Regions from separate parts of the Homo sapiens genome. Here region 1 is linked to region 2. Evidence: fine-mapped expression QTL. Tissue or cell type: whole blood. Region 2 holds a variant in brackets; the other region holds the start of a gene. All regions are shown on one strand. Distances are from middle to middle.

Region 1 (2,762 bases), 29 kb after region 2:
AGACCACAGCTGGGCTGGGCACAGTGGCTCACGCCTGTAATCCCAGCACTTTGGGAGGCCCAGGCGCGCGGATCACGAGGTCAGGAGATCAAGACCATCCTGACTAACACGGTGAAATCCCGTGTCTACTAAAAGTATAAAAAAAATTAGCCAGGCGTGGTGGTGGGCACCTATAGTCCCAGCTACGCAGGAGGCTGAGGCAGGAGAATGGCGTGAACCCAGGAGGTGGAGCTTGCAGTGAGCCGAGATCGCGCCACTGCACTCCAGCCTGGGCAACAGAGCGAGACCACGTCTCAAAAAAAAAAAAAAAAAGAAGAGACCACAGCTGAAGGGATAGCAAATTCATCATCAAGATGTAGAAAATGAGTTGTTAGGAGCCTGTGGGGAAACATAATCGTTTCATTACACACTCTTAACTAAAGGTCCAAAGAGGCCCTTGGAGCTGGATGAAACTTTCACACACCAAAAAGCTGTAGAAATTATTTCCCTATCCAAGAGGGTCATCTCTTTTGAGAAAAACTATCTTTTCCTGACTTTAAAAGGTTAACGTTTTTCTTAATATAAAGGTAAAACTTGTTTTAAACTTAAGTTTTTAAACTTATTAAGAATTTACCATAGAACTTTAAAAAATCTATTAAAATATACAAAGGAGAGGTGCTCCTCTAATCACACTACACAGCGGTCTACACTTGTAATAAACAAAATCGGGATTTTTTGGGGGGGGAGTGGGACGGAGTTTCACTCTTGTTGCCCAGGCTGGAGTGTAATGGCTCAATCTTGGCTCACTGTAACCTCCGCCTCCTGGGTTCAAGCAGTTCTCCTGCCTCAGCCTCCCAAGTAGCTGGGATTACAGGCATATGCCACCACTCCCAGCTAATTTTGTATTTTCAGTAGAGATGGGGTTTCATCATGTTGGTCAGGCTGGTCTCGAACTTCTGACCTCAGGTAATCCGCTCGCCATGGTCTCCCAAAGTGTGGGGATTACAGGCGTGAGCCACCGCGTCCGGCCAAAATTCGGATTTTGTTGTAACTGCAATTTTGTATCTCGCTTTGCTAACATTTTCCCGCATGATTAAATTATCTTATACAACAGGGGTATTCCAGGATACAAATTGGTTGCAATTTATTTAACCAATCTCTTATTGTTGGACATTTGGAGTATTGCCTTTATTTTATGGTTTTTCTCGGGCTTTTGGGCTAAGTGTTGCAATTAACAACTTTGTTACACGAATCTTTACTCATATCCTTGATTTTATCCATTGAATTCGTGGAAGTGGAATTGCTGGACCAAAGGGTATTTGAAACATATTACTAATTTGTCTTCTAAGAGTGATTTTACCCATTTAAACTCCCACGCGCAATTTAATAGGATTTCAATGTTGTTGCTGGTGTCGTCAACTGTCAAATGCCGAAGTATACCTTCCGGCCTGACCTCCTGTCCTCCTTCGCGTTTTCCCGCCCACTCCGCACACCCGCCACCCTTAGTACATGCTGGCCCGCCCCTTCCTTATCCCGCACCAATTCTGTCCAATCAAAAGCAAAGTTCCTCAGTATCGCCGTGCAGTTGGTAAGGTGAAGAGTCCGTCGTGCTCAGGGGCGGGCGGAACGGGCTGACGGACGCGGCTATGGGCCAGTGTGAGCGGCGAGTGGGACGTGCGTGGCGTGCGTGCGTTGACCTGGGAAGCACTGGACCTGTGAGGCGTGCGAACTGGTGGCAGTGAGAGACTTCGGCGGACATGGCTCCCAGCGTGCCAGCGGCAGAACCCGAGTATCCTAAAGGCATCCGGGCCGTGCTGCTGGGGCCTCCCGGGGCCGGTAAAGGGACCCAGGTGAGCGGCAGGACTGGGCTTGGCGGCGGAGCCTGCTGAACTCCAAGGTCAAGGCGGCCGGAGATCTAGAAGCCCTGGACCTGCCCGGAGCGGGCCGGGGACTAAGGCCTGCGGGGAACGCTGGCCGGGGTCTCGGTTCTGGTGGGGCATTTCGGAGAGGGTCCAAATTGGAGGTCGGGGCAGTCTGAGTTAGGATTGGAGTGCCCGAGGGATTCAGTGTTGAAGTGTTGGGTTAGGGAATGTGAGGGCTGATTAATTCCACTAAGGGTCTAGAGACTGGAAAGGTTTGAGGGGTAGAGTGAGCCCTGGGCCGAGGCATCTAGATTACAGGCTGAATGGAGGCAATTAGCTTTATGGCCCAGGTTACCTGCGAGTTGGAGGTGAATTGTCCAGAATCAGGGTTACATTCCAGGCACTGGAGGTCGGGAGATTTTGATAATGATTTATGACTTAGGGGGAGGGGAGGAGAAGCATCTCCAACACGTGGGGCAGAGTGAGAGGTGACATGTGCTGTGTGAGCCAGTTGAATTGAGATGGGAGGAAACCTAAGGCTCTCCCTGTTTGAAAGTTGGGGGTGAATGTGTAGAACTGGTTTATAGCCTGGAGACCCATGAGTCGCAACCTTTGAGTAGTGTCCACAATAAGGGTTGGGAGTGCTCATGGGACCTGGCTTGGAGTTAGGACCTGAGGCTACTGAAGGCTAAGCAGCTTGGGATGACGCAAATGATTTTAGATGAAAAGGAACTTGAATTTTTTTTTATTTTGTTTTTATTATTTTTGTTTGTTTGTATCTTCCTTCCCTTTGGTTTTTATTTATTTTTTCCTTTTTTTATTTTGTTGTTGTTTATAGGGAACTTGAAATTTTAACTTTATCAATCAACAGGTTAAAAAACAGGCCCAGAAAGGTCAGGTGGCTTTCCCAAATTAGTGAAA
Region 2 (2,762 bases):
AGAGGAAACTGGTGAGACAGAAAGTATAAGGAGGAGAATCATTAAATAAAACCTATTGTAAATGAGATTGAGTGCTGAAGGAGGAAGAGAACAGAGGGATGTTATTTTCAGGCTAATAGAAATGGTGAGATTTTTAGGTTTGTAAGGAGAAAAAGAGAGGTAATTAGAAGTGGGATTAGTTAGATGGGTCTCCATTGCCATCAGGGAGGATTGAATCAGACCCATTGTGATTTGGTGTGCCTGCTTCTGAGGAGTCGGCACAGATCTCACTACGTCTGAGGGCAGTCTGTGACACAGACGTCTTTTCTTTGTGGTTTTTGTTTGATGATCTCCTGGTGAAACACAAGCATATTCTCTTTCCTACGTTAAGGAGAATAAGAGACAATATTTAAAGGTTTGGGGAAATCCTGTAAGGCAGTAATTACAGCAATTAACTCTGCCTTTTGAGCAGAGGCATAAGGGGTAGAAATAAGCTGTCTGTAGGTCTTAAATAATTAATGTTACCTAAAAGTTTTTGGAAGTCATTTAAAGTTTTCAAAGAAACTCTCTTAATTTGAACTTTTTGAGGTTGAATACGTTGTTTATCGACCACCATTCCTAAATATTGAACAGGAGTGGTCTGTTGAATTTTATCCTGAGTGATGTGTAATCCAGCCTCTGTAACACAGCGGCTTAAAATTTGATAACAGTCAATTAATTCTTTATTAGTTGGGGTAGCAATTAAAATATCATCAATATAATGAAGAATATAGGCCTGGGGAAATTGGGCTCGAACTAGTGAAAGCACTTGTCCGACATAAAGCTGGCAGATTGTAGGGCTATTCAGCATTCCCTGAGGAAGTACTTTCCATTGATAATGAGCTGCAGGCTCCTGATTATTGATAGATGGTACAGTAAAAGCAAATTTTTTACAATCCGATTTATGTAAAGCAATATGAAAAAACAATCTTTAAGACCAATAACTATGAGAGACCAATTTTTAGGTATTAAAGCAGGGGCAGGCATGCTGGGTTGGACAGCTCCCATAGGTTTAATTACAGCGTCAATGGCCCATAAATTGGTTACCATACGCCACTTGCCTGATTTCTTTTTTACTAGAAACATAGGAGAATTCCAGGGGGAAAGAGAAGGTTCCACATTTCCAAGTTGTAACTGTTCAGAAACCAATTGAATTAAAGCCTCCAGATTTTCTTTAGAAAGCAGCCACTGCTGAATCCAAACAGGTGTGTCAGATTTCCATTGTAAAGGGATAGGATCAGGAGGCATGGCAGTGGCCACCACTAAAAAGGATAATCTAAACCATTACTGTCTTATTTTATAGTAATTGGGAGGGGTTTA[A/G]TAATCCCTTCATGCTTCGGACCGAGACCTAGCCCAGGAACAAACCCATGTTTTTCATCATATGCCGACCGGGAACACTATAAGAGTTATATGGAATATTAATTTTAGCCTCAGTATCTACTAGGCCCTCAAAACTTTTTTCCTTGAATGTGTATGGTGAAGGTGGGCCGTTGTTTAGAAATTGTATTAATCCAATAAGCAGCCTTTTTACCACCAGAGTCTATCCCAGAGCCACGTGTCTTATCTCCTTTGTTTAAAACGATATTAGGTAGTAAAAGCAATTGAGCCTGTTTAACAGTAGTAAAAGAAACAGGAGCTTGGCCTGGGGCACGTAATTTATCCCAAGCTCTCATACACACCTTTGTTACTTGTTTTGTGGTAGGAGCATCAAAGCCTACTTGGGCTTAAGTATCAGAGAAACTATTGGAGCCTGTGAGCTGAGCCTGAGTAGTTAGAATGCCATTAGTCTGATTTAGCTGAGCCTGAACATGGGCCTCCTCTGCCCACCAGGCTGAGATGGGGTTAGAACAGCTTTTTGCCAAAAGGTCCAAGTCTAAAGGAAGTAAAGTGACCTCCATACAAAAAGTTTGTAATACCATTTTAACATAAGGAGAAGTAGGACCATACTGACTGAGTACAAGCATCCTTAAATTCTTTTAAAAAAAGTAAGATTGAGCAGTGCATATCGACACAGACCGGTTGAGGAACCGAAACGACAGGAGGGTGAGGGGCTGTAGTGGATGGGGGAGGGCCTGGAGAATTATAGGTAAATTGTAGTTTGGTCCTGGAGCCATTTGAAGAGACAAGAATTAGCATATCTATGGTCCTGGGCTGTGTGAGTCATGGCCGCGGGAGCTTCAAGTACCAGTTCTTCATGAAAAGAAGATAAGTAGGGGGTAACTTTAAGCCAAAGTCACCAGAGTTAGACATTGAATTTTCAGCATCGTTAGGTGGGGGAGGAGTAGCCGAAGGAAGAGGCTGATCAGATAATGAAGGCCGTGTGGGAGAGGAAAGTTGAGGAGGTATTAGGATGGCACGTTCCAAGGCCTAATCACCCCAAACAGTGACGGGAACATAATTCCCTGCTGGGACCAGCTCCCAGAATGTTGAACCAACACGATCCCATACTTTTACATATACGGTTCCTTTTTCAGGAAACCAAGGACAGTATTTTTCCAACACCCTGAATAGAGTGACCATATTTTCCATGGTTACTCAGACCCTTCCCTGTTTTAACAGGTCTACATCTAAGGTTCCTTTTTCTTCTAATTTTAACGTTTCAGTATATATCACCTCCTGTAATTGATTATAGTCAACATTTTGTGTTGACCGAGCCATTACCGGCTCTGCTACATATTTACAATGTGAACTTTCCATTCCTTTTCGGGATTCTATCCCTGCCTCTTCTTCACAATCTATTACAC

What was found. PIP is the estimated chance that this variant, and not a neighbour inherited with it, causes the effect.
Region 1: AK2 starts here. The variant in region 2 is fine-mapped to the expression of AK2 in whole blood (TOPMed, PIP 0.99).

Annotation. Positions count from the first base shown.
Region 1 is chr1:33,035,803-33,038,564 of GRCh38, reverse strand. It overlaps AK2 (adenylate kinase 2), which reads left to right and starts at 1,682. Exons shown (of 6, transcript NM_001625.4): 1 at 1,682-1,829. The coding sequence starts at 1,737. RefSeq lists an enhancer at 1,704-1,863.
Region 2 is chr1:33,064,942-33,067,703 of GRCh38, reverse strand. No RefSeq gene overlaps it. Among named protein-coding and RNA genes, the nearest start is that of AZIN2, 15 kb to the left of the region's middle. The variant A/G (reference allele first, on the strand shown) is at 1,339.